Linked DNA regions of Homo sapiens: regions 2 and 3 are each linked to region 1. Evidence: fine-mapped expression QTL. A gene starts in region 1. Each other region holds a variant in brackets. All regions are shown on one strand. Distances are between the middles of the regions.

Region 1 (10,253 bases):
TTTGTATTTTTTTAGTAGAGACGGGGTTTCACCCTGTTAGCCAGGATGGTCTCGATCTCCTGACCTCGTGATCCACCCGCCTCAGCCTCCCAAAGTGCTGGGATTACAGGCGAGAGCCACCGCACCTGGCCAAAAACCGTTTTAAGAACCAGAAACCATGTATCTGTATACATCTGCCACTATGAGTCACGAGCACACTACAAATGCCATTGTTCAGGCATCTGCTTTTCTTTTAATCAATAAACATGATAGAAACCCAATTCTACCTAAAGGGACATTTTGTATATATCTTTTACATATCAAGGACCAATATCTAAAAAAAGCATTTTTAGATAAGTACGAAAACATTGTAGTTCCTTAATATTCAAGTAACAGACAGTAAAAATATCAATCAATAAACTGCTGTATTATGTATTTAAACTGTTGTATTTTAGCAAAAAGTAATGCAGAATGGAAAGAAATACTGTAACATACTCACACAGAAAGTCATCTGACTTATTCTGTAAAATGTGCCACCCTTCATCAGCCACTGCTATGATTGGTTGAATTCGACTGTTGTATTTGTAATGCCACCTTTCTGGAACGTCTTCTTTTTTGTAAACAGTAAGATTAGGATGAGCGTGAGTTAGTGCTTCATAGACTTCATCAAATTTACCTAAAGAGAAGGGAGGAGAGGCACTCAGAACAAAATACTCATAGCTACCATCAGCCATGGGCAACAGACTTGCTACGGAGGTGAAAAACCAGAGAGCTGAACATAAGAAAAAATTCTTTTTCCCCTTGGGGAAAACAATTTTGGGAGGGGAAACTAGGAAATAATCTTCTGTTGTAAGTTCACCTTATAGAATTAAGGAAGGGCATTTTATAGAACCAGAAACCTCTAAAGACTTCAATACACACACATATTAATTAGTGACACTATGTAAAATGTCTAGGGTACTGCAATACCCAAATAAAAATGGCTAGGTTCTGGTAGTTGTGAGTGCAGACACGAAGAATCTCCAGACAAGAAAACATGGTGAGGGGTGGGTGAGGGCTGGGAAAAGAGGCTGGAGGTGGAAAGCAGTTTGTAAAATGGAAACATCTGAAAACACTGGAGGTGTTGCCAAAGTACTCCCTATAACTACAAATGCGGTTACCCAGGCACTGTCTTTCATCCTCCTGTTTTTCAAATCCATTGCTGAGGTTGCATCCTTATCTTCTGCACCGCAACAAGAGGACATCATTCCAATTTTATAAAGGAAATCGAAGGGTTAATGTAATTTTCTCCCCTTCCATTTCCTCTTCCCTTCCCTCTTCCCTTCCTCCTTCCCTCCCTCCTCTCTCTCTCTTTCACCCCCTTCTCTTCCCTCCCTCTCTCTCTCTCTTTCCCCCTCAGTCTCTCTTTTTCTTTCTTTTTTTTCTTTCGACTGTGTCTCCCTGTCGCCCAAGGAGGAGTGCAGTGATATGATCATAGCTCACTGTAACCTAGAACTCCTGGGCTCAAGCAACCCTTCCACCTCAGCCTGGGACACAGGCATGTGTCACCACACCAGGCTATTTTTTTTTTTTTTTTTTTTAGCAACAGAGTCTTGCTATGTTGCCCAGGCTGGCCTCAAACTCCTGGCCTCAAGTGACCCTGCTGCCTCAGCCTCCCAAAGTGCTGAGATTATAGGCGTGAGCAACCACTCCTAGCTAATTTTCTTAAACCAGAAAAAAAGTGCTGTTTGCTGAAAACTGTGTGTGTAAAACACACACATATTTTAACATTCGCTGTTTCATATGATTCTAATTCCCCTCTGAGGGATGGAATTCTCATTTGTGAAATATTATAGCTTTTCAAAATCTGTTCTCTCATTTGATACCTAAGACCAACCCTGCAAAGTGATAAAATATGTCAAAGAGCATGTCTGAGTCATGTTGTCACTTATTTTGTGACCTCAGGATGTTAAACCTTTTGAGGTCACTTACCTGTCATTTACTTCTCTTTAAAATGGAGACAATACTGAGGTGACAGGTTTGGTATAAGGATTCCAGGAGAGGTTTGTAAAAAGTTTAAGGTATTGTTATTACTTTCCACATTTATAAGGAAAATAAACCTCAGATTGACCAAAGCTCTTTCTCCTTCTTATCTTCCACAGCTTCCTTGTTAAGCAGGTCCAAATTAGGAACCTATAAAAGGCTTTGGGGCTTCTATGAAATAACTGTACATGCATTCAAGTTTTGTATGTATCTTTCCATCTCAATTTTTCTGAGAAGGGAGGCTATAGCTTTCATAATATTCTATGGATCCAAAATGGTTAAAACCTACTGCCATACATACATAGAGCACATCAATTTCAGTATTCTAGGAAAAAGGAAAAAAAAATTAGGCTTTGAAAAAAGAGATTTTGTCTTTTCAGAGTCTGAGGATTAAATCCCAGAATATTACCATGACACAGGCAAAGTCTACTTTAAAGGCGCAGCAACAGAAATCCCTGTTCATTTGATCACACTGGGCAAATGCACATCTAGTCTCAGCTCACCATTCATTCAGTCAGCCTTACCTTCTTTTGGCAAGATGGCTGCTACTGGAGATTGATCAATCAGGGTATAGTGGTCTTTATCCAGGTACTGGTCAAGTTCTATTAACCTTTCCTCAGAGCACTGCGTCATTCCATGATCACTTGTGATGATTAGGTTCAGAGTGTTCCACAACTTTGCCTTTTTCAGCATTTGTATGAGATATCCTAACTTCTTGTCAATATCTGAAATGACAGGCCCCATGAGCGGACTGTCAGGTCCCAAATGGTGGCCCATGTCATCAGGGTCTTCCCAATAGAGAAGACCAAGATTTATGGGCTCTTTTGACGTAAACCATTCAATAATTTTGGCAACTCTATCTTCAAATGAAACTGACTCATTGTAAGGCATGTAATGAGTAGGAAAGCGCTTATGTATTTTTACATCTGTTCCGGGCCACATGGCTGCACCACTAGTATGTCCTGCCCTCTGGTTTGTGATCCATATTGGTGTCGCTTCTTCCCAAAACTTGGAATCATAAATATTCATGTGATCCAAGGAGAAAGATTTGTTCCGAATAGGATCAAACATATCATTTGCAACAATCCCATGATTCTCTGCAAAGAGGCCAGTTACCAAAGTATAATGGTTAGGGTAGGTTTTTGTAATAAAAACATTAGTAACTTGCTTCACGTGAACACCATATTTCATAATATAATGAAAATGGGGCGTTGGAACTTTATATAAGTAATCCCAACGGAATCCATCAAAAGAAACTAGTAGAACCTTTTGCTGGTCTGGTTGGAGAGAAAAGGTGGTTGAAAGACTCAGTGCAGCAAGTATGAAGGACACCAAGAGAAATTTCGAAGTCATTTTCAAAGTACTTGATCAGTTCAGTGTAAGATAATCTGTAGAATAAACATATAGAAATTAAAGGCAATAATTTTGTTTTGTATACTTTACCCCAAACTCAGAGTAACAGTGCTTAGCAATCCTAGTTATATTCATAAATCACAGCCTGGAAGAATTATGTCACAGAACTCCGTATTAGATAAGAGACCTGGGGCTAAATGAATAATAAAGCTAATAAGTTTAGCTGCATTTAAACAACTTTTTCACTTCTGAGAATTTATCTAAATATCCCTCAAAGGAATTATTTAAGTGAGCTCTTCAACAGCATTTTAAAATATGACATCATTTACATAAAACTTTTAGAAACATTTTCAGGTTGATCCAGACTTTTGACTTCTGGTCAGAAACTTTTTTATAGTCAAATACCTGTGAACATCCTTAACATTATGGCTAGAGCAACTATGGCAACCTAGCAACAATGAAGTATCATTAGCAAATCGAATAATGGTGCATATACATATATATTATATATATATGTATATGCACACTTCTATTTTCAACCCCTATGTTTGGTTAATCACAGACAAAAGATGTATTACTAAAGAGAGAGGAAAATAGATGAATTTGGTTTCTTGAAGTGAAATAACATTTGTGACATCCAGATATATTTATTGAAAAGTAATCTGCATTCATTTATTAATAATCAAATCACAGCATTCGTTGAACTAAATAATTAGATTCTAAACTAAATATTAACAGAAATATAATTCTGAAATTTGTTGTTGACTTTCCTAATGTTAAAATTTGTCAAAATTTAATCTTATCATTGATAGGTGTAGTAAAAGCACTTCCCTGGTTTAAAGCTCTGTGAATCAAGGTTGCTGGTCTTTTCCCCTAATCTGTGTATATTTCTAAAATACTTTCATTCTATTGAAGAAAGCTAATAAGACGCTGTATGGATAAACAATAGATATGTAAATTTTGTCAGTTTTCATCAGGCGTGCACATCCAGCAGGGATCTTTTGTTCTCTCATTTTTCTACCCATTCCTGCATGAAGGTATTTATAAACCCACCAAAACTTAGATCAAACCACACTTGTACAAATAAATCTCTTGAAACTGCCTTTTGATATCTTCCTAAGCTGAAGACTTCTTTTTTTTTTTTTTTTGAGAGGGAGTCTCACTCTGTTGCCCAAGCTGGTGTGCGGTGGCACGATCTCAGCTTACTGCAACTTCCGCCTTCCGTGTTCAAGCAATTCTCCTGCCTCAGTCTCCCAAGTAGCTGGGACTACAGGCGCCCGCCACCACACCCAGCTAATTTTTGTATTTTCAGTAGAGACAGGGTTTCGCCATGTTGGCCAGCCTGGTCTCAAAACTGCTGACCTCAGGTGATTCACCCTTCTCGGCTCCCCAAAGTGCTGGGATTACAGGCATGAGCCACCGCAGCCGGCCTGAAGACATTTTTAAACTTCAAAAATATATCCTGTTTCACCTTGCTGTATTATAGGTACAGGTAAATAAAAACTACTTGGCATGCTTGCTTTGCTTTCAGAAATACAAGGTATATGTACATTGTGGGTATTCGCTGAGGGCAATAAATTCTGTTTTGCTGGTTTTAAACTGTGTTTTCACCATACCTAGACATTTCTTAAACTGAAATTGTTTTAGGTATTGGTCTCAAGATGATAGCTCAAATGTCATATTTAAAAACGATTTCTTGGATGGCAATACTCTCTCTGATTCTGGAAGGAACATTAAACACAGTTGCAGCAAGGAATAGCAAATAGGTTACTGCAAATATATTTACTCACCTATCTGGCTATGGATGGTAGTTGCTCTCTCTGTCCTTTCTCCCCCTAATTTTCTCTCCCACCTTTTTAAAACAAGGAAGGCTAGTATCAACCAAATGTAATTTAAGGCTAAAAGCAGAGGAAATAAACTACATGGAACACCTCATTTTCATCTATCTTAGCAAATTAATTCGGCACATGTGTAAGCAGGAGAAAACTGCTTTCTTGGGACCAACAAAAGTAAGCAAAGATTAAGTGTTGTCTAAAGCTTAGGAATGTTTGGCAAGAAGACTCAACATCACATCCATGACACAGAGCAATAAACAGAGGTGGGGGGTGGGGAATGAAAACAATCAGAATTTTTTTTTTTTTCGTGCACAAAATGCTGCACAAAACAGTGGAATCCCTGGATCTGGCTCCACATTTCATTGAGTACTTTCCAGTTCTTTCTCCCCTCCAACCCTTCCTCCACAAACAGACTTGGAGAGCAGGAAGGACGGGGCACCGATTAAACGGAAGAGGGAAAGTGCAGAAGGAGTAGGTTTGTGTAGCTCGGGTAGACGTCAAGGGCGGGGGTGTCCATCTTCTCCACCAGGATTCCATCCTAGCCACCCAGAATGGTCGCGGCGTAGGTTATGTTCCCAATTCCCAGTCATCCCGCCCACCGAGGCCTGGGCTTCTTAGATGTGCAGTGGCAAGGAGGGGACGTTGCTTTAGGGACCCAGAGGAGCAGTGTGGGTTCCCGGGAGGGAAGCCACCCACGCCCCTGGACTCACCCTCGCAGCGATCCGTTCAGTCCGTATTAGTTTGGAGCAACGGGAGGGAGGGTCTGGAGGAGACTCCCTCGGGCGCGCCGCGGGTAACGGCGGGAGGGTGACTGGAGGAACGCCCCCGGAACGCGCAGGAGCTCACCTGCGCTCAACTCTGGAGCGGAGCACCTGACCGCGCCGCTTCCCCGCCCCGCCTCCTGGCTTCTATTGGCTGCTGCAGAGATAGTCACTTCTGCCTGGGTTGCCCCCGAAAGCCAGGCTCCCAGGAGTAGCTGCACGGCCTGTCAATCAGCGGGGGCAGGGGCGGGCGCTGCCTGGGTTTGGAGGGTGGAGGGGGAGGGGACTCCCGGGGGCAGGGACCCATCTGGTAGGGCGAAGGCGTGGGATGGCCAATTGCTTGGTCACACACAAAACCTTCCGGCAACGTGCCTTTTCCAGGGGACCAGCTGTGCTGGAGTCAGTGATGCTGAGAGATTATTGCGTGTTACCCCAATGGTGGGTGTACTCTAACAGTCACTGTTTTTTGTTTAAAAGCGACTTGTATTCTCTGATTTCTTATCCCAGGCTTTTTTCCTTCCCCCGCCCCCCGCCCCCTGCCTTGTCACGAATTGGCGATGGGGCACACCATGGGCTTTGCTCTGAGGAACACCTGCACACCCGAGGATGCCAATGGGACGATGAAGTTTCATTCTTTTTATTAGTGGGTGTTATCTGCTTTACCTCAGAAAGAATTTATTAACCTAGTCAACTCTGCAGCCCCAACGTTTGCAGTCCAGGTTTTTGCAATTGAGGTCCCTGAGGTATATTTGTGGTGTACCTAGCATGGCACCTGAAATTGTGCGAATTAAACCAAGACAGGTTCAGAATTAGGTTAATTTGCACAGGAGAGAGGCTGAACAGCCACCCTCTCTGGTGGTGGCATCCGAGCTCCAGACTCTGTTTCTACCTTTGTTTGCAAAGTAAACATTAAAACTACAAACATCAGGCCTGATTACTCTTTCAGAAAGCCTTCAGTGCTTCTTGTGTGTTAGTGCCCCTATTTTGTCTTTTTCCGTACTGTAGTGGATTATTTTCTCAGTTTTTTTGGGATAATCAATGGCATTTTTAGGCCTGAGGGAGTGTAGGCAGGTACTTAGTTTGCCAGTATGATCCCAACTGTCTTTACCATAAATTATAGCAGTGATATCAAACTACCCTGAAAGAATTTGTCCATCTACACAATCCCAGCTAGAATTCTGACCTAATTAGAATTCTAGTTCTATCTGCAGTAGGCAATAATATCAGGTTGATTGTTACAATGTAAGTTTAACATCTAATTAGCTGGTAAAACTGGGAGCATATCTGCAATGGTGGTTTTGGCTCCTGCCCGGAGCTCGGATCCCTTGTCTGGTGTGCTGGAGCTTTAAAGTGAATAGAGATATCTGTTGATATTTAATTAAGCCATGCAAACATTTTGGTCATAGCTTTTTCTCTGTCTGCTTCTAATAGAGGGACAATCTCAACCCCAAACATTGTTACCTCCTAACTGGGTCATCCCATCCCGAAGGGCATCTGGGCACTCTTCCATGGCCTTTTATTCGTGGTAACTTGAGTTTATGGTTTTCAACACGTGGGATGGGGATTAAGAGGGAGGCTGGTTTCTATGTTTAGTGAGACCCAAACACAATGAAGTTGAACAAGTTGTTCCAATTCCCCAAAGCCCTGTCCTTTGAAATTGCCCAAACTTGGAACAGAGTGGTCCAATCTTGTAAGTCCTTGTCCCCCAGAATAGGTCAACTCTGTGCTCTCCCAAAACACTCAAAGGACAATGTACGCTTATCAGAGAGCAGGAGTGGTGAAAATGGGCCTGACTTTTGTTCGGATCACTGAACATTGTTGGACTCTGTTTGGATGACAACCTGCTTTGCTCTGCAAATTTTATGGAAGTTATGATTATATTCACCAGCTATTCCTGTGAAATAGGCATGGTACAGCTGGTAACCACAGTGCACAACACAGAAAAGTGCTCATAAGACTGCCAGATTCCTCCCAGAAGTCCATATAATGATATCTAATGTTCACCTGATAGGCTTGCTATTACCTTATGTTGTTCATGGGGAGAAAGTCTGGTTTACATAGTATAGAGGAATGAATGTAAAACATGAGATTCCTGCTCCCACATCTGCACCTGCCCTCCTGTCTTATTGTTGCCTCAGTATCTGTCTATTTGCAATAGGTTTTCAGAAAGTTTTAGCAGCAGAAACCACAACCTGCTATTGACTGTAACTATTCTTTTATTCTCTGTTATTAAATTAGTGGAATTCTAATTGAATAATAGTGTAACAGAATAACCAACTTCTTTCTTTCAAAGGTTTTGGGGTCAGGTGGGGAGGGAGATCCCTCTGCCTCCCCAAGGAAGTCTAATACAGGTTGAGAGAGGGACAATTTTCTTCGTCAGGGGCTGGAAGAGCTTTGTGCTAAAACTGAAAAGGGATCTGTTCTTTAAGAAACAACCAGAACTGGCTCTACCACAGAAGTCTTGTTTTTCAGAACTAGACTTCATGATAGGAAAAATAAACACATAATTTTACAATTAAAAAATTTTAAAGGTGCATTCCAGTACATTATACCACAAATGACTAAACTAAAAGAAAGTTCATCTTTTAATCCTTTGTAGAACATTCTGCAAAATGTGGGTCTCACATATTCAATGGCCATAGATAGGAACCACTGGGATTCTGCTTCTGCACTGCTCTTAATTCATGATAAACAGTGGTCTTCACTAATCTTGACTCATTAGCAGAAGTTCAGTCCAATGAGTGAAATGTTGAATTATAGAATAGTCAAAAACTTAGCCCAAGAATTTTTATGCATATTAATAAATTAGGCTTCTAGTGATATGCTTGAACTAATTAGAATGAATTTTGTAGAAGCAATTATTATGCTTTTATCCTCAGAAAGCTTTATATAAGTCAAATATAAACCTATTTGTATTGTTGTATTCTGTAAATTGTATTCATAGTGTTTTAGTTCTAGGACTGCCTTAACAAATTATCACAAACTGGGTGACTTACGACAAACAGAAATGTATTCTCACATAGTTCTGGAGGTCAGAAGTCTGAAATCAAGATGTATTCAGGGCCATGCTCTCTCCGAGACTCTGAGAAGAATCCTTGCTTGGCCCTAACAGCTGCTGGGGATTCTGGTATTCCTTGGCTTGCTGCAGCCTAGCTCCAATCTCTGCCTCTCCTGTCACAGGATGCTCTACTCTGTGTGTCCCTGTGTCACGTGGCCTTCTTATAAGAACACCAGTCATTGGGATTAAGGCCCTCTTCAGCCCAGTATGGCTTCATCTAAATTTAATTACATATGCAAAGATCCTACTTCCAAATAAGGTCACATTCTGAGGTTCCGGGTGAATGTGTATTTCGGAAGGACACTTATTCAACCCAGTATATATAGCTAGCAGAAAGTTTAATTTTATGGCCCAGCCTAGATCAAAAGTTGATGGATTACTAATAAAATGGCTCAAATCAAGGTAACTGACAACATCTGATACTGACAAGGATTCAGAGCTATAATATATTGCTGGACTATCATACACTGCTGGTGGGAATGGACTTCCACTATGGAAGTCAGTTTTGAAGTTTCTTATAAAGTTAAATATACACGTGACATACAACCCAGGAATCTCACTCCTGAGTATTTATCTAAGAGAAATGAAGACAGACGTCCACTGAAAAACCGGTCAACAACTTTTTACAGCAGCTTTATTCATAATCATGTAAAGCTAGAAACCATCCAAATGTCCCTCAACTAGTGAATAAACAAATTGTAGTGTGTCCGTAAATGCAGTACTGTTTGGCAGTAAGAAGGAATACAGAACTCATGCATGCAACAACATGGATGAATCTCAAAAGCGTTTTTCTAGGTGAACGAAGCCAGACACAAATGGCCATACACTGTGTGATTCTGTTTATATGATATTCTAGAAAGGGCAACAATGGAAATAGAAACCAAATCAGCATTTGCCAAGGACTAGGGGTGAGGGGAGGGGATTGGCTAGAAAGGGGCACAAAGAATTTTTTTATGTGATAGAATTTTGATTGCTTTTGTAGTCACATCACTAAGTTTGTCAATATTCAGAGAACTATGTGCCTAAAAATGTTTAATTTTACTGTGTGGAAATTATACCTCAGTAAACAGCAGCAACAATAAATAAACCCTACCCTGCGATAATACCTCACACCTCACCAAAGTTCACAAATTGGTGCTGGTGGTGTTTGACTCTCAGTGGCCTTTCCTGTGTGTACGGGTGTATACCAGTTCTTCCTGCAGGGTGTGAGTGCTTGCAAGTGCAGGAGCTCCACGGGGCCTGCTC
Region 2 (9,773 bases), 45 kb after region 1:
AGTCCCAGGTACTTGGGAGGCTGAGACAGAAGTATAACCTGAGCCTGGGAAGGTTGAGGTTGCAGTAAGCCGTGATCATGCCACTGGACTCCAGGCTGGGTGAAAGAGTGAGACCCTGTCTCAAAAAAGAAAGAAAGAAAAAAAGAAAAAGCAGGAGGTAATAGAAAAGAAACATTCAGGAATAAAAAAATCCTCTCAGAAATTAAATACATGTCAACAGAAAGAAAAATAAATAAAAGTGTTGAAAGATAATGTTTCAGAAATTTCCCAGAAAAATAGAGCCAAAAAGTCAAAGAGATAGAAAATTGTAGAGAAAGAAAACAGGAATTTGAGAACAATTTTGGAAGACTTAAGGTCCAACTAGTAGATATCCTTCGAATAATAGGAGGGAACAGTGAGATAGATATAGGGGAGGAAAGTTTCAAATAAGCTGTTTGGTATGGTTTCCTGTGTCCCTACCTAAATATCATCTTGAGTCATAATAAACAGCACATGGGAAGGGCAGGGCGAAGTGGAGATAATTGAATCATAGGGGTGGTTTCTCCCATACTGTTCTCATGGTAGCACATAAGTCTCAAAAGATCTGATGGTTTTATAAATGGGAGTTTCCCTGCACAAGTTCTCTTTTGCGTTCCGCTGTGTAAGACGTGCCTTTGCTTCTCCTTTGGCTTTCACCATGATTGTGGGGCCTTCCCAGCCATGTTGAATGGTGAGTCCATTAAACCTCTTTCCTTCATAAATTACCCAGTTGGGTATGTCTTTGTTTGCAGCACGCGAATGAACTAATACACTCTCTTCAAGAAAAATGTCCACAATGGAAGGATATGAATTTCTAGGTTGAAAGGACTTATAAGAAATCAAATACATGAAACTCAGAGCAGTTGAGACAAAGCAGCCCTAAAAGCTTCCAGGAGAAAATACAGTTTACGTAAAAGGGTCAGAATTTAGAATGACATAGGCCTTCTAGAAGCTGGAAAGCAATGGAGTGATGCCATCAAAACCCTGAATAAATTTCCACAAACCAACTATTATGTGAGTGTGAAGGTGCAATAAAGACATTTTCAAACATGCAAGATCTTGTAAAACTTACCTTCCATGCTCCACTTCTTCAGTGAAGATACTGGGAAATATGCTCCATCATAACTAGGAAGTAAACTTTTTTTCTCATTCATGTGTTCAGTGGAGGTCAGGTATGATTACGGAGGCTCTGATGGGCTCCCCAAATCCCATTAGGAGTCCTTACCAGGTAAGACAAGTCCTAGGAATTTGGCCTTGGGGCAATTCTGCAAATAGGGCCAGCAATAGTGATGATGATGGGCTCAATTGGCTCCAACTCTTTCTAATGCATATCTTTAACTTCCTGCCACTTCTTTTTATATTTATTGACTCTAAGCTTGAATTGCCTCTTAGACGCAGCTGGAAAGAATCCTCCCATATCCACTGTAGCCTTCATCTCTCCATGTCATCTGTTGAGGCTGTGTCATTTCTAGCTTCTCTGTTAGACTTCTTTCTGCATTCCAGAAGTGACTTAGATTTTCTAGACAGCTGTTGATATGCTTTATTGGGTTGCAGGGCTATTATATATATTTCCTTTGATGACCTTCTGTGTAATTTCCAGGAGATTTCTGGGGATTGGATGGGCAATAAATATATGTCCTTCATCTACCATTTTAAACAGAAACTCATAGACAGCAGATTTTGCCCTTCCCCCGTATTTACACATACTGCGTTGCTGATTAACTAAGGCTCTCAAACTTCTATTATCTCTTCTCCAAACTCTTCTCTTTCTCCCTGTGCATTTACATTTTTAAAACAAACAGTGACTGGGCATGGTGGCTCATACCTGTAATCCCAGCATTTTCAGAGGCTGAGGCAGGAGGATCACTTGAGCCTAGGAGTTGTCTAGCCTGGGCAACATAGTAAGACCCCATCTTTACAAATAAAATACAAAAAATTAGCCCGGTGTGGTGGTGCACACCTGTAGTGCCAGCTACCTTGGAGGGGCTGAGGTGGGAGAATCCCTTGAACCTAGGAGGTTGAGGCTTCAGTGAGCTGTGATCACACCACTGGACTCCACCCTGGGTGACAGAGTGAGGCCCTGTCTCAGTAAATAAATAAATAAATAAATAAATAAATAAATAAATAAATAAATAAATAAATACAGGACTTTACATATGTATCTATTATGTTTTCTTTTTTTTTTCCATTCCAGTGGATTCCACTGTCTTATTAAAAGCCCAAATTATTCTTTTTTTTTTATTATACTTCAAGTTTTAGGGTACATGTGCACATTGTGCAAGTTAGTTACATATGTATACATGTACCATGCTGGTGCGCTACACCCACTAACTCGTCATCTAGCATTAGGTATATCTCCAAATGCTATCCCTCCCCCCTCCCCCCACCCCACCACAGTCCCCAGAGTGTGATGTTCCCCTTCCTATGTCCATGTGATCTCATTGTTCAATTCCCACCTATGAGTGAGAATATGCGGTGTTTGGTTTTTTGTTCTTGCGAGAGTTTACTGAGAATGATGATTTCCAATTTCATCCATGTCCCTACAAAGGACATGAACTCATCATTTTTTATGGCTACATAGTATTCCATGGTGTATATGTGCCACATTTTCTTAATCCAGTCTATCATTGTTGGACATTTGGGTTGGTTCCAAGTCTTTGCTATTGTGAATAGTGCCGCAATAAACATACATGTGCATGTGTCTTTATAGCAGCAAGATTTATAGTCCTTTGGGTATATACCCAGTAATGGGATGGCTGGGTCAAATGGTATTTCTAGTTCTAGATCCCTGAGGAATCGCCACACTGAATTCCGCAATGGTTGAACTAGTTTACAGTCCCACCAACAGTGTAAAAGTGTTCCTATTTCTCCACATCCTCTCCAGCACCTGTTGTTTCCTGACTTTTTAATGATTGCCATTCTAACTGGTGTGAGATGGTATCTCATTGTGGTTTTGATTTGCATTTCTCTGATGGCCAGTGATGGTGAGCATTTTTTCATGTGTTTTTTGGTTGCATAAATGTCTTCTTTTGAGAAGTGTCTGTTCATGTCCTTCGCCCACTTTTTGATGGGGTTGTTTGTTTTATTCTTGTAAATTTGTTTGAGTTCATTGTAGATTCTGGATATTAGCCCTTTGTCAGATGAGTAGGTTGCGAAAATTTTCTCCCATTTTGTAGGTTGCCTGTTCACTCTGATGGTAGTTTCTTTTGCTGTGCAGAAGCTCTTTAGTTTAATTAGATCCCATTTGTCAATTTTGGCTTTTGTTGCCATTGCTTTTGGTGTTTTGGACATGAAGTCCTTGCCCATGCCTATGTCCTGAATGGTGATGCCTAGGTTTTCTTCTAGAGTTTTTATGGTTTTAGGTCTAACGTTTAAGTCTTTAATCCATCTTGAATTGATTTTTGTATAAGGTGTAAGGAAGGGATCCAGTTTCAGCTTTCTACATATGGCTAGCCAGTTTTCCCAGCACCATTTATGAAATAGGGAAACCTTTCCCCATTGCTTGTTTTTCTCAGGTTTGTCAAAGATCAGACAGTTGTAGATATGCGGCATTATTTCTGAGGGCTCTGTTCTGTTCCATTGATGTATATCTCTGTTTTGGTACCAGTACCATGCTGTTTTGGTTACTGTAGCCTTGTAGTATAGTTTGAAGTCAGGTAGTGTGATGCCTCCAGCTTTGTAGGCCATTACATAATGGTAAAGGGATCAATTCACCAAGAAGAGCTAACTATCCTAAATATATATGCACCCAATACAGGAGCACCCAGATTCATAAAGCAAGTCCTGAGTGACCTACAAAGAGACTTAGACTCCCACACATTAATAATGGGAGACTTTAACACCCCACTGTCAACATTAGACAGATCAACGAGACAGAAAGTCAACAAGGATACCCAGGAATTGAACTCAGCTCTGCACCAAGCAGACCTAATAGACATCTACAGAACTCTCCACCCCAAATCAACAGAATATACATTTTTTTCAGCACCACACCACACCTATTCCAAAATTGACCACATAGTTGGAAGTAAAGCTCTCCTCAGCAAATGTAAAAGAACAGAAATTATAACAAACTATCTCTCAGACCACAGTGCAATCAAACTAGAACTCAGGATTAAGAATCTCACTCAAAACCGCTCAACTACATGGAAACTGAACAACCTGCTCCTGAATGACTACTGGGTACATAACGAAATGAAGGCAGAAATAAAGATGTTCTTTGAAACCAACGAGAACAAAGACACAACATACCAGAATCTCTGGGACGCATTCAAAGCAGTGTGTAGAGGGAAATTTATACCACTAAATGCCCACAAGAGAAAGCAGGAAAGATCCAAAATTGACACCCTAACATCACAATTAAAAGAACTAGAAAAGCAAGAGCAAACACATTCAAAAGCTAGCAGAAGGCAAGAAATAACTAAAATCAGAGCAGATCTGAAGGAAATAGAGACACAAAAAAATGCTTCAAAAAATTCATGAATCCAGGAGCTGGTTTTTTGAAAGGATCAACAAAATTGATAGACCGCTAGCAAGACTAATAAAGAAAAAAAGAGAGAAGAATCAAATAGACACAATAAAAAATGATAAAGGGGATATCACCACCGATCCCACAGAAATATTATGTTTTCTTTATTTTTCAGTCAGCCACTCAGTGGAGAGTGAAGAAACCCCACTTAAGCTTGTTTGAGGAAGAGGAAAATCTGTTGCTTCAGGCATCTGAAAAGTCCAGGGGATATGAGTATCAGGTATAGTTTGGTCTAGGCACTCAAATAATAACATTAAACTCACTTCCCATCCCTCTTCTTCTCTTTCAGCATTTCAGCTCTTCTTTTCTCCTGATTGCCTTCATTCTCAGGGAAAGATTATCCACATGGCAGCTTCTGGCACTAATGCCTGTCTGAGACCATCCTGTTACTCCCAGTAAAGCTAGGAGTGGCTATTCTCAGAACACTGGTGTACTCCTGGAATAATTGCCTTTCTGGAAATCACATTGTAGCTTATTCAGAAGCACTTTTAATAGAGATATTTGGAATGACCCTGGGCGGAAGTTTATCAGAACCTGGAGCATAGCAGCAATACCTGGAGATTCTATCGAAAACAGCAAGGCCAGCACAGTGGGTAAGAATGGACTGTGGACAGGAACAGAGGAGGAAGCTCAGTCAAATGAATTGCTGGGGGAAGGAAAATTATATGCTTTGAGCACTTTTTTTTGATGGGCATTTCATACACAGAGGCAGTTAAAAGTATGTGCTCTGCAATCATAGCCCTGCTGGGGATATATTAGGCGGTTGATCTTGAGTGCTTCTTAAACTTTAAAGTACTGGGAATCAAGGGAGGATCTTGTTAAAAGGCAGATTCTGTTTCAGTAGGCCAGGGGTGGCGCTTGAGACTCTGCGTCTCTAACCAGCTCCACGGGGGATGCAGATACTCCCGGGATGCAGATGCAGATGCTGCAGTGCGTAGAACATGCTTTGAGTACCAAGGACTTAGCTTTTCTGGGCTTTAGTTGCCTTACATGTAAAATGTGGGTATCAGTGCCTTCATCATAAGAGCATAGAGAGAATTAAATAAGAATGTAAAGAACTTGGCCAGGTGCAGTGGCTCAAGCCTGTAATCGCAGCAGTTCCGGAGGCCGAGGAGGGCGGATCACCTGAAGTTGGGAGTTCAAGAGCAGCCTGACCAACATGGTGAAACCCCATTTCTTCTAAAAAATATAAAATTAGCTGGGCATGGTGGCACATGCCTGTAATCCCAGCTACTTGGGGAGGCTGAGGCAGGAAAATCTCTTGAACCTGGGAGGCGGAGGTTGCGGTGAGCTGAGATCACACCATTGCACTCCAGCCTGGGCAACAAGAACAAAAGTCCGTCTCAAAAAAAAAAAAAAAAAAAAGAATGTAAAGAACTTTTAAGAGCTCTTGACACGGTGTAAGCACTCAAAAAATGCTGACTATTCTTTCTGAAGAATGGAAACAGTGAAGGTGCCATCATGAAGACTGAGGGTACAAATGCCAGGTGCTCTGTGTGGGGCCTGATGCATAAAGAGCTCTGGGTGAGGACTTCCTATGTACCCAGCACTTGATACTCTTTCTCATTCAATCCCTCCTAACTCTCTGAGACAGATACTATCATCCTTTACTTTTGATAAATGTGGAAACCAAAACTTAGGTTTAAAAAAACTGTCCAAGACCACAAGTTTACCAAGCAGCAGAGCTGGGGTTTAAACCTAGGTCTTGTGGCAGCAAAACTTGTGAATGTAGTTATTAACCGGCCCTCCAATAATAATTGTTACTGTTATTATCTTATTAAGTCCTCATGACAAAAGTGGATTTTTATGCCCATTTTACAGGAGAGGAAACTGAGTTGTAGGGACTATAGTAACTTGTCTAAAGTCGCTTGCACAATCTTCATCCCTTTCTCATATACAAGGTTGACAGGGAGGTGGTGACATCTTTTGAGGTGGCCTGAGGGTGGCACATGGGCCAGAATTTGGGTTCTACCCTCCCTGTTATAGACCCGTGTTTTTCATGAAGGCTCCTGACAACAGCTGAACAGGCATCCATTGTCCTCCTCACTCCACAGGGATGGTTGAGAGAAGCCCTCCTTTCTCCACTGAGGAACTTTGTGCCAAGTCACCTGCACGTCTACCCTACCTACCCCTGACCTGAACTCAGCAGGACAGCACAAAGAAAGCATGAAGAACTTTGCTGCACTGCTTTTGGAAAATATGCTAACCCCTAGCATAACCAATCCATCTTAAGAATGAAACAGCAGCGATTGATGGAAAAGAGTTGTACAATTCCGGGGCGCTCAAAGTGATGGAAGAAGCTATTGAGGATGATGTAAGTGTCAGGTTAGTTTTTCTAGGACTTAGACTCTGAGAGGGAGATGTACATGCAGGAGGTTTACTAGGGAGACTTTAGAGTCCTTACCTGTTGGGGATAAAGGCAGAGTTGAACTGAAATACCGGGCCTCAGCCTATCCCACAGGGATAGCTCTGGAGCTGGAGTGGCCCAAGGGAAGGCCTTCCTTGACTAGTCACTGGATGCAGGCTGTCCCTGAGGAGGGTGAGACCTTGGGTGGGGAGCATCTCTCCAGCTGAGTGCAATGCCTGGCCACTCAGCAGCGAGTCATGACCCACCAACCTTCCTAACATCTGGGGGCATGAGTGTTTCCACTCTGAAGTGGGGAGCTGGGACTCTGAAGTGGGGAGCTGGGACTCTGAAGTGGGGAACTGGGACTACAGCATCCACAACAGCACATCAGATGGATTATCAAGGTGTTGAACTTGGCAGCTTTGTACGGAAACTATAAATCTTGTTTTAAGAATAAAATACCCTACTGGCAAATCCAAAGATTGTTTGGGGAACAGTAATGATTTTCCTAATGATAGCAACTAGTCAAGGAGGCCCCATAGTCCTGTCCAACCCTAAAAGTTTTCTAACTCAATTATTGGTTGAGAATGGAAAATAACACAAAAGCACCAAGGAGGTATTGTGGATGAATTTTTTAGCACAAAGTGTTTCATCCATTTCTGCCTATTTTGGATTTCCTATTTCCAACCTGTACCAAATGTGCTTGCGTACACATACACACGACTAACCTTAAATATGGCTTCCTTTTAGAGACATAAAAAGCTCATGAATCAACTCCAAAAACATTTGCCCAGACTTTCTTTGAAAGGTGCAGATGAATGAGCTTGACAGAAAACTTTTTGCTTGAAATTTTCCCTTTCTCAGATTGCATA[A/C]ATTTAAGGGGAAAGGCTGCCAAATGTTCAATGACGCTCAGCGTGGTGGCTTCTGGCAGGGACACTCTGTACCAGCAGCTAAATGAATGTTTCCCTGAATCACTGACTGACTTATCATCCTTTATCACCTGCTCTGTTCCCCTTTTTCTGCATTGAGGCTTTCTAAATGACGTGGGGAGGGGAAGTAAAAAAAAACTTTAGAACCACAAGACACTGCATATTGATGTTGGATATTGAGAATTCTTCTGGTGTTAATAGATAGGATTGCAGTGAGGAGCACGAGGCTATCAAAAGCTATCTTCAAGCCTAATGTGGGCAAGACCCGTCAAGCCCCAGTGCTACAGAGGATCTGGACATTTTGGGCTGTAGCTTTGTATTAGGAAACTTCTTGTTTGTGTTAGGATTTACCAATGAATTGGGTCATATAATTCCCTTTTTGAAACCCTTAAAATGAACTCAAACCCCCTAGCCTGGCCTATTAATAATAGGTTCTACTGAGCCTGCCTTCCTCCGCCACCTGCCTTCCAACCTCATCCTAAACTGTGCTCACCCTCACTCCCTGTGCCTCAGCCATACCAACAAAATCCTTCAGGCTCCTCCAACACGACAAGACAAGGCCTTTCCAGAGTCACAGCCTTCAGCCCTGCTGCCTGGAATGCTTTTCTCGCAGCATTTCCATGGCCAGTGCCTCCAGGTCGGCTTAAATGTTACCTCTTTAGAGAGGCCTTCCCTGACTATGATCCTCCACTTTTATTCTCTATTCTCATAGAGTACTTTTGGTTTTCTTCACTGTACTTACCTATGAGAATTTGTGGCCATTATTTGCTTGTTTATTTCTTATCTCTTTTCCATGCTAGACTCCACTCCCTGAAATGGCAGGGACAAAAGCTACCTTGTTCACCACTGAAAACCCAGTGTCAGGCACACAGTTTGTTACTTGAATGAACAGTGTTTCACCCAGAGCCTAAGTCCTGTGCTCTCTCATTTAAAAAGGAACACTTATTTATAGATTTTTAAATGAAGGCTTTGAAAATATGGAAATATCTCACAGACATGAGATGGGAGACGTACGTTTTTAGTATGAGGACATTCTAAACCCCCATCACAACTAATGGCTCCTTCTTCTCTGTCCTCAGGGAGAACAGCTTTTGTTTTAGTTGAGGTATAACTTACTGTAGTATATGGCACACATTTTAACTGAATTTTACATGGGTATACATCCATATGGAGATCAGGATCGAGATGTAGAATATTGATGGCACATTGGAAGGCTTCCACATGAGAGGGTTCCTCTCAGGCAGTACCATTCAAAAGGTAGCCACTGTACTGTGACAGGTCCCCCAACAGGTTACCGAAGGGTATAAGTCTGTTGCCTGAACTCTGAGGGCCGGACAGTGAGCCAAGACCCTGGTGCCGAGCTGAGGAGCAGGTGTCCCTGAGAAGCCAAACCTCCCAGAGAGTTTCTGAGGAACTACCAAGAAAAACAGTCTCATTGTTCAAACACGTAGGCAAAGAGCCAGGAAATTAGCTTAAAAGCAGTTTATGGATGGGAGGTGGGGCAGATCTCCAGAGCTATCCTGCCGCCATCCCAGAGTGCCCCGTATGTAAGTCCTAATAAACTCATCTACTCCTCATGCTGGACTTAGGTCTGAGTCCTTCTTTGGACTCTTAGCACTTTTTTTAGTTTGGGGGTGGTGTTGGGGGACCTTACAGTCCTAAGTGTTTTCATAATAGCCACTATTATTTCTATTTATATAGGCCAGTTTTGACTTTCTTAGCTTGCTAAAAGGAGTCATATACTATGTATTTTTTTCATGTCTAGTTTTTCTTTTTTGCTCAAAATATGATTTTGCGATCTATTCATGTTCATATATGTACCACTAGTTTATGTGTCTTATTGCTTTGTGACATTCCTTTGTGTGAGGATAGCACAGTTTATTCTATAGTTGAAGGACATTTGGGCTGTATCCAGTTAATGGCTATGATGAACAACTTTGCTAGGGACATT
Region 3 (10,253 bases), 31 kb after region 1:
GTTTTGTTAGAGAAATTAGACATATACAGAAAAACAATTAGATTATAGAACATTACAAAAGGGAGTATAATCAAAAGGTACATTTTGTGGAACAGGAAATGTTTTATAAGAACAGTGGCAAGACTGAACCATTTACCTTTAGCTGATTGTCACTTTCCTTGTCATCTTCTCAGGTTTTAAGAAAATCAGTAGTTGTATTTCTTAGGAAGTATTAAGCTGCAAGTAGCACTATTCTCAACTCAAGGTAACTAAATCAATGGGATTTCTTCTCTCACTTAAAAGTGAACCCAGGGTGGATAGTTCCAGGTGTGGCTATGTCAGGAGCATAACCACATTATTGAGAATGAAGCTGCATTTTTTTCTTTCTGTTCAGGCATCCTCAGGCTTATACCCCTATGATAGTTGGCTGCCACAGTTCCAGACATCTTATATTTCCTCCACCTCCATAGGCTGAACAATGTTCCCCCAAAAGATATCCACATCCTAATCCCTGTGTATTAGTCTGTTTTCACACTACTGATAAAGACATACCCAAGACTGGGCAATTTACCAAAAAAAAAAAAAAAATGGTTTAATGGACTTAAAGTTCCACGTGGCTGGGGAGGCCTCACAAACATGGTGGAAGGTGAAAGGCACATCTCACATGGTAGAAGACAAGAGAAGGGAGCTTGTACAGGGAAACTCCCCCTTATAATAACCATCAGATCTTGTGAGACTTACTCACTATCATGAGAACAGCACAGGAAAGACCTGCTCCCATGATTCAATTACCTCCCACTGGGTCCCTCTTACAACACGTGGGAATTCAAGATGAGATTTGGGTGGGGATACAGCCAAACCATATCATTCCACCTCTGGCCCCTCCCAAATCTCATGTCCACACATTTCAAAACCAATCATGCCTTCCCAACAGTTCCACAAAGTCTTAAGACATTTCGGCATTAACTCAAAAGTCCACAGACCAAAGTCTCATCAGAGACAAGGCAAGTTCCTTCCACCTATGAGCCTGCAAAATCAAAAGCGACTTAGTTACTTCCTAGATATAATGGGGATACAGGCATTTGGTAAATACAGCCATTCCAAATGGGATAAATAGGCCAAAACAAAGGGGCTACAGGCCCCATGCAAGTCTGAAATTTAGCAGGGTAGTCAAATGTTAAAGCTCCAAAATGATCTCCTTTGACTCCATGTCTCATATCCAGGTTATGCTGTTGCAAGAGGTGGGTTCCCATGGTTTTGGGCAGCTCAGCCCCTGTGGCTTTGCAGGGTACAGTCTCCCTCTTGGCTGCTTTCATGGAATGGTGTTGAGTGTCTGCAGCTTTTCCAGGCACATGGTGCAAACTGTTTGTGGATCTGCCATTCTGGGGTCTGGGGGATGGTGGCCCTCTTCTCACAGCTCCACTAGGTGGTGCCCCAATAGGGACTCTGTGTGGGCATTCTGACCCCACATTTCCCTTCCAAACTGCCCTACAGAGGTTCTCCATGAGAGCCCCACCTCTGCAGCAAACTTCTGGACATCCAGGTGTTTCCGTACATCCTCTGAAATCTAGGTGGAGGTTCCCAAACCTCAATTTTTGACTGCTGTGTACCAGCAGGCTCAACACTTCGTGGAAGCTGCCAAGGTTTGGGGCTTCCACCCTCTGAAGCAACAGCCTCAGTTGTACCTTGGCCCCTTTTAGCCATGACTGGAGCAGCTGGGACACAGGGCACCAAGTCCCTAGGCTGCACACAGCACAGGGACCCTGGGCCCAGCCCATGAAACCCTTTTTTCTTTCTAGGCCTCTAGGCCTGTGATCAGAGGGGCTGCCATGAAGATCTCTGACATGGCTGGAGGCATTTTCCCCACTGTCTTGGAAATTAACATTTGACTCCTCGTTTCTGATGCAAATTTCTGCAGCTGGCTTGAATTTCTCCTCAGAAAATGGGATTTTTTTTTTCTATTGCATTGTCAGGCTGCAAATTTTTCAAACATTTATGCTCTTCTTTCCTTATAAAACTGAGGGCCTTTAACAGAACCCAAGTCACCTCTTGAATGCTTTGTTCCTTAGAAATTTCTTCTGCCAGATACCTTAAATCATCTCTCTCCAGTTCAAGTTCCATAAATCTCTAGGGCAGGGGAAAAATGCCACCTGCCTCTTTGCTAAAACATAACAAGAGTCACCTTTGCTACAGTTCCCTAGTTCCTCATCTCCATCTCAGACCACCTCAGCCTGGACTTCGTTGTTCATATCACTATCAGCATTTTTGTCAAAGCCATTCAACAAGTATCTAGGAAGTTCCAGACTTTCCCACATTTTCCTATCTTCTTCTGAGCCCTCCAAACTGTTCCAACATCTGCCTATTACCCAGTTCCAAAGTCGCTTCCACATTTTCAGGTATCTTCAGCAACATCCCACTCTACTGGTACCAATTTACTGTACTAGTCCGTTTTCATGCTGCTGATAAAGATGTACCTGAGACTGGGCGATTTACAAAAAAAAGAAGGTTTAATGGACTTGCAGTTTCACGTGGCTGGGGAGTCCTCACAATCATGGTGGAAGGTAGAAAGCATGTCTCACATGGTGGCAGACAAGAGAAGAAAGCTTGTGCAGGGAAACTCCCCTTTGTAATAACCATCAGATCTCCTGAGACTTACTATCACAACAATAGCATGGGAAATACCTGCCCCCATGATTCAACTACCTCCCATCAGATCCCTCCCACAACATGCGGGAATTCAAGATGAGATTTTGGTGGGGACACAGCCAAACCATATCACCCTGGTAATTGGCAATGTTATTTTATATGGCAAAAAGGGAGTTTGCAGAAGTGATTAAGGATCTTGAGATGGCGAGGTTATCCTGGGTTATCTGAGTGGTCCCTATATGCTATCACAAGTATTTTTTTGGGGTGTGTTTGTTTTTTGAAATGGAGTCTTGTTCTGTCGCCAGGCTGGAGTGCAGTGGTGTGATCTTGGCTCACTGCAACCACTGCCTCCTGGGTTCAAGCAATTCCCTTACCTCAGACTCCCACGTAGCTGGGACTACAGGTGCATGCCACCATGCCCAGCTAATTATTTATCGCAAGTATCTTTACAAAAAGGAGGCAGAGGAAGATTTGAGACACAGAAGAGAGAAGGCAATGTTACCACAGACACATAAATTAGAGTGATGTAGACACTAAGCAATGCCTACTGCCATAAGAAGCTGCAAGAGGCAAGGCATGGGCCCCAGAGGGAGTGCGGCCCTGCTAACACCTCGATTTGGACCCAGTGATACTGACTTTGGATGTCTGTCCTTCAGAATTGTGAGAAAATAAACATCTGTTGGTTTAAGCCGCCAAGTTGGTGGTAATTTGTTATATCAGCCATTGTAAACTAAAGTGGAATGAAATGGGGCATCTCTTTGCCAGTGTTTCCATTTACAGAGAGAAAACCTTTTCCAAAAATCCACTATAGACTTCACGGATGCTTAGGAAATAAGTATCTGGCAATTTTAGCCTCTAACTATTCTGCAAGCAAGGAAAAAATATGGTGTAATAGTTTTGGGAAAAGCAACCAATTGTGTCTTCCGTGATAGCAAATAAAGTGACCAATTCACAGACAGTAGGAGGGAGATGGAACTGGAACATATCATTCTGGCCAAATCCCAAAGTCAAGCATTGGAACCTACTGAATTTAAGAGTTGACTGCACTCTTACAGTGAACAGTTTCACCAGCATCAGGGTATCACATTGTCTTTTCTACCAAGTGAGTCAGTGTTCTTTTGTGAGGACACAGATAGAGGCACTGCCAAGGAAACAGGCCACGTTTCCCTGGGATAAGTTCTTACGCAACTTGGGTAAGAACGCAAGGAAGCACACAAGCAAAGGAATACTTTTTTCTGGAGGTGGAGATTCCTTAGCAACCTTTAACCACCACAGCATTCTATCTTCTGACTCTTGGTTCCGTCTTTTGGGATGCTGTCCACATGCAAAGGAGGTGTATTCTCAGCTTTCTGCTCCTCTATGGATGGCTTCCCTGAAATTCCAATTTCTAATTCACACAAAGATAGTCATCTAGAGGATCTTCCTGTTGGCTATTCACCAGTTGATTTGGGGGAGAAGGGAACTCTTTTGTTTTGCATTCAGAGTTTAGTGCTTGTGTGAGTATTTGCCTCCCTTTTATACTAACTAAGCTGGCTGAAGACCTGAAGGCTCTGGAAGAGCTCAGTTTCTGCTGCAAAGAGAGGGAGAAGCCCTGCTAGGAGATCCCTATACTTAGAGCGTTTGTTTGAGTTAAACATCTTTCAAATTTGAGTAGTAGTTCTACACTCAAGTATATGTCTCTCTTTTTTTCTTTATTATTTAAAAAAAATGTGGAAGGTTTTGGCTTTGGCTTACAGAGTGTTCTAAAACACAAAATCTTGTCATCTGGAAAATGCCTCTTTTTGCTACTCTTAAATAGGAATAAATTTGAAAGGAACCCACACAGAGACCACCAAGTGATGTGATGGCTCTTTGTTGCCCCCAAAATTCACAGGCAAATGCTTCTGCTGACCCACAACTTGGGACCAGTGAGGATTTAAATCTACTACTTATGGGATTGTAATTCTCCTACTGGGCTGTTAATCTGATTGTTTATTAAAGCTCTGCTGACTTGTTCGTTTAATGTATTCGACATACTGGGCCCTTAACTTCAATATACAGCACTGGCTACATTTCAAGTGTCTAATAGCTACAGGTGGCTAGTGGCCGTTGCAGTTCTAGAGTCAGTCCATTGCTGTATCATCTGCACATTAGTAAGTCTCAAGATAACATTTTCAGCCAGGTATTGGCACTTACAGGCAGGAGTATAGACCAGATATTTTGCAGAAGGTAAGTTTTCACTGGGCCCTTAACTTACATTGGATAGACACTTATCTACTTTGTATATTGCCTGTCTGATATCTCTATGTATATATATATATATATGTCTTTTATGATCCTGAAATATCCCGCTTGAGAATTCTTAGGAAGAGACAGAATGTGGGAGAAAGTCACATAATAAATGTATGCTTGAGGGCAACGTCTAAGATCAATACTGTAAGAACTTTAGCCTGGGCACAGTGGCTCACACCTATAATCCCAGCATTTTAGGAGACCGAGACGGAAGACTGTTTGAAATCAGGAGCTTGAAGTCAGCCTGAGCAACATGGTAAGACCCCAACTCTATTAAAAACAAACAAACAAGCAAAAAAACTAGTTAGTGCAGTGGCTTGTGCTATAATTTCAGCTACTTAGGAGGTTGGAGAATCATTTGAGCCGAGGAGTTTAACACTGCAGTAAGCTATGATCACGCCACTCCACTCCAGCTTGGGCAACAGCATGAGACCCCATCTCTAAAAATAAAAATACCAAATAAAACTTTGGACACCAAGGGCTGATGTTCTACATGGTTATATCTCTATATTTCTCTCCTTCCTCTTTTGTTTGTTGTCTCTTTCTGAAGTTATGCCTCTTTTTAGTATTGCTACCTTTCTTCTTCTTACTACTTCTTTGACATAATATTGGAGCCTGGAATATCTGGGGCTGCTTTCACTGTTAGGGATGCACTTTTTAGGTAAACATAGTACATTAGCAAGAAGAACAGAGAACATTAGAGAGGCCACATAATTTTTCTGAATTTACACTATATAAAAAGTTATCCAGTGTGTAAAGAGACAGGATTTCAAACCTTGAGTTGACAGAGGTTATGATCTTGGCCAAAATTTATGGACTTAAAATTTCAGATATTTGACTTCTAGGCTACTGACAAATATATCTGTTAGGAGTGCTTTCAGCTGCAAATAACAGAATTCCTGATCAACAGTAGCTTAAACATGGAGAGGTTTCATGTTCTTAGGTAACAAGGAGCCTTCAGGTAACTGAATGCTGGCATTGGTTCTGCTGTTTGACAGAATCCTCAGGGATTCCACTCCACCATCCTTAGTGTACTCACGTTCAACTAAATGCTTGCTACCTCATGGACACAGATGGTTG[C/T]TGACACAGCAGACACTGAATCTTTGTTCAAGGAAGAAAGATGTTCTCATCAGAAAAACAAAAGCTTTTCGAGAACTCTGTCCCCTGGGAAGCCCCAGCTACAAGAGAGGCTGGGAAAATGAGTAATTAGCTTCTTAGTCTCTGAAGTGGACAATGTAAGAGAGAAGACACTATTGAGTTAGTGAGCAAACGATGACAGCCATAATGTGGTTCTCTAACAGCTGATATAGTAGCTAACATATATAGAGGGCTTGTGGGATGTAAGATATACAAGCGTTTCACAGATGTAATTTCCTCTGATCCTCACAACAATTCCTTGATTTATGCCTACTATTATTATCCCTCCATTCTTAGTTGAGAAAACTATATCTTAGAGATGCCAATTAATTTACCCAAATCACATGGAAATTCCCTTGTTGCGTTACCCTATCTCCATAATGACCAAATAGCTACCCTTATTCATAGATTCCCTTCCACATAATTTATACTTTTTTTGAAATACATGCTTAATATTTTACTCCATAAAGGCAGAGTGATGGAGAGGAAGGAGTCGGGTAACTTGGTTTCTGGCTTGAGAAATTCTGATAGTATGGCTCATTCCCTGAGAAAGGAAGGGTAGTTTTTGGCAGACATTATGTACATCCCATGTCAGGTGGGTTTAATAGAGGGTACCTATTGGTCATCGAAGTGGCTCATGTTAAGAGGTGTCTGGAGTGCAGGAGAAATTTCATAGAATTGACCTATGTTGTCTAGGAGATTGATGATCACAGCCAAACCAGTATCACCTTCCTAAAACTTCCTTTTCTTAAGAAATAAGAAAGTAAGCAGAAGAGATGTAGGGATGAGTAATGGATACAAGTGGCTTCTTTTCTGCTCACCAATACTGTGGGAGGAAGTTTCTGAGACAGCCCCGATTATGCCTGCCTCCTGATATCCCTGATTATGTCTGCCTCCTTGCATATGAACCTACTCTTCCTTGAGTGGTCTGGACTTGTGACTTGCTTCTGATTAATAGGATAACAACAAAGGTGATGAGCTATCATTTCCATAATTATGTTACAAGCATGTAACCTCTGTCTCATTAGCAGATTTTCTCTATTTGTCTTCTTGGCTTTCATGCTTTGGTGAAGGAAATAGCCATGTTCAAGAGCCCCATGTAGCAAGAAGAGGTTCATGTGGCAAGGATCTTAGGGTGGCTGTTGGCTGACAGCTAGCAAAGAACTGAGGCCCTCAGTCCAGCAGCCTTTGAGGAACAGAATTCTGCCAACAACCTGAGTGAGCTTGGAAGTGGATCCTTCCCCAGCCAAGCTTTCAGATGAGACCCTAGCCCTGGTCACCAATATGATTGTATCCTTGTGAAAGACCCTGAAGTAGGGGGCCCAGCTCAGTTGGATTCCTGACCCACAGATGTGGAGATAATAAATGTGTGTTGTTGAAACCATTATACTATGGTAATTTATTAAATGGCAATAGATAACACATACAAACACCCAGAGTTTAGTTGAGGGATCAGGGGATAGGCCCATGTGGCCATTAGCTGGGGTATATGCTTACCTAATTCAAAAGTCAAAGGAGAGCAGACTATCTTTTATGATTCTGAAATACAGAAGGGAGATTGCTTATATTTGGAAATAAATTACCTGGTTGGTCAATTAAAACCAGAACTGAGAATCAAAGCATTTGATTCACTGGAGAAAAGAGAAAACCCTGAGAGGAATGCAGTTATATTTAGAGCAGCCTCTGAGCAGCAACAGCTGGTGTCTGAATGAGGCCAGCACATCTTATGGGAGTGGTATATGAGCCTCGGGAGGCAGATAAACATTAGACATAACCATGAAGCAAAAGGCTGTAGATGGTGCTGAGGAAGCCAGGGAATCAAGGGGTGTATCATGGGAAGTTGTAGATTTTCCTCTACTGGAATCCATAAAGAATAAGGGATCTTGTAAAATAACTTTTAAAAAATTCAAAATAGTGATTACAATCATTCAGTGTTCCTGTTCTGTGAGCAATTTCCTTTCTTTCCTTTCTCCTCTTCTATTTTACAGTAGCCATTGACACTTTTTACATTAATCTACTCAGGCTTTCATAATAAAATACCACAGTCTAGGTATTATGCAAGACAAAAATTTACTTTCTTGCAGTTCTGGAGGTGAGAAGTCCAAGATCAAGGTGCCTTCAGGGTGAGGCTCCAGTGAAGCCTGTCTTCCTGGCTTTCCAGAGGCTGCTTCCTAGCTGTTTCCTCACACAGCCTTTTCTCTCTGTGTATGTGGAAAGAGAGCAGTCTCTGGCATCTCTTTTCTTCTTCTTCTTCTTCTTTTTTTTTTTTTTTTGAGAAGGAGTCTCGCTGTGTCACCCAGGCTGGAGTGCAGTGGCGTGATCTCAGCTCACTACAACCTCTGCCTCCTGGGTTCACACCATTCTCCTGCCTCTGCCTCCCTAGTAGCTGGGACTACAGGTGCCCACGACCATGTCTGGTAAATTTTTTGTATTTTTAGTAGAGACAGCGTTTCACCGTGTTAGCCAGGATGGTCTTGATCTCCTGACATTGCGATCTGTCCACCTCAGCCTCCCAAAGTGCTGGGATTACAGGTGTGAGCCACCAGCACCCAGCCTCTTCCTCTTCTTATAAGGACACCAGTTCTACTGGGTTAAGGCCCCACCCTTATGACCCCATTTAGCATTAATTACCTACCAAAAGGCCCTGTCTCCACATATAGTCCCATTGGGGGTTATGGCTTCAACATATGAATTTGGGGTTGGAGGTGGATATAATTCAGTCTGTAGTATTTCCTAACCACTAAATGCCTATAAAATGTAAGCTCAGTAAGGGCAGGGACTTGGGCTGTGTTTTTCACTGAGCTGTCTTATCTTTCCAAGGCCTGTTACAGTGCCTGGCACAGGCACATAGTAGACCCTCAATAAATGTTTGTTGAATGAATGAACGATGGTCTCTTCTCTCTGATGCTCTGAGATGGAGGAAATCGCTGAGAACAGATCAGGTAATGAGGCATTTTTTTTTTCCATAAGAGGTAGAAAGTTTTTATGTAGTGTTGTATAAAATATTTTTCAGTTTTATGATAAGATTTATAAAGATGCTCAGTCGTCACCACCAGCACGTGCACCATGTCCTCCCGCTGCTGCGTGCTCCTCTGCCAGTGGCAATGGAAGAAGAGATCCCCGCGCTCTTCATTGACAATGGCTCCGGCATGTGAAAAGCAGCTTTGCTGGGACAATGCCCTCCGAGCCATATTCCCCTCCATCATCGGGCACCCCCGGCACCAGGGCGTGATGGTGGGCATGGGCCAGAAGGACTCCTACGTGGGCGACCAGGCCCAGAGCAAGTGCGGCATCCTGACCCTGAAGTACCCCATCAAGCATGGCATCGTCACAAACTGGGACGACATGGAGAAGATCTGGCACCATGTTTTCTACAACGAGCTGTGCGTGGCCCTGGAGGAGCAGGTGGTGCTGCTGACCGAGGCCCCGCTAAACCCCAGGGCCAATAGGGAGAAGATGACTCAGATCATGTTTAAGACCTTCAACACCCAGGCCATGTACGTGGCCATTCAGGCCGTGCTGACCCTCCACAGCTCTGGTTGCACCACTGGCATTGTCATGGACTCTGGAGATGGGGTCACCCACACAGTGCCCATCTACGAGCGCCACACCCTCCCTCACACCATCTTGCATCTGGACCTGGCTGGCCAGGACCTTACTGACTACCTCATGAAGATCCCTACCTAGCGCAGCTATAGCTTCAACACCATGGCCAAGTGGAAAATCGTGCGCAACATCAAGGAGAAGCTATGCTATGTCGCTCTGGACTTCGAGTAGGAGATGGCCACTGCTGCATCCTCCTCCTCCCTGGAGAAGAGCTACGAGCTGCCTGACAGCCAGGCCATCATTATTAGCAATGAGCGGTTCCGGTGTCCGAGGCACTGTTCCAGCCTTCCTTCCTGGGCATGGAATCCTGTGGCATCCATGAAAGTACCTTCAACTCCATCATGAAGTGTGATATGGACATCCCCAAAGACCTGTACGCCAACACAGTGCTGTCTGGCGTCACCACCATGTACCCTGGCATCCCCAATAGGATGCAGAAGGAGATCACTGCCCTGGCATCCAGCACCATGAAGATCAAGATATCGTGCCCCCAGAGTGCAAGTACTTTGTGTGGATCGGTGGCTCCATCCTGGCCTCACTGTCCACCTTCCAGCAGATGTGGATTAGCAAGCAGGAGTACAACGAGTCGGGCCCCTCCATCATCCACCGCAAAT

What was found. PIP is the estimated chance that this variant, and not a neighbour inherited with it, causes the effect.
Region 2: its variant is fine-mapped to the expression of ENPP5 in fibroblasts (GTEx, PIP 0.97). The same link has a PIP of 0.9 or more in aorta.
Region 3: its variant is fine-mapped to the expression of ENPP5 in tibial nerve (GTEx, PIP above 0.99).

The regions. Positions count from the first base shown.
Region 1 is chr6:46,164,909-46,175,161 of GRCh38, forward strand. ENPP5 (ectonucleotide pyrophosphatase/phosphodiesterase family member 5) reads right to left here and starts at 6,072. Exons shown (of 5, transcript NM_001290072.2): 1 at 5,900-6,072; 2 at 5,145-5,206; 3 at 2,526-3,389; 4 at 479-655. The coding sequence starts at 3,354. RefSeq lists a silencer at 6,244-6,303.
Region 2 is chr6:46,209,982-46,219,754 of GRCh38, forward strand. LOC105375079 (a long non-coding RNA gene) reads left to right here and starts at 9,324. Exons shown (of 5, transcript XR_001743802.3): 1 at 9,324-9,369. The variant A/C (reference allele first, on the strand shown) is at 7,766.
Region 3 is chr6:46,195,841-46,206,093 of GRCh38, forward strand. It overlaps the pseudogene ACTG1P9. Among named protein-coding and RNA genes, the nearest start is that of ENPP5, 30 kb to the left of the region's middle. The variant C/T (reference allele first, on the strand shown) is at 5,977.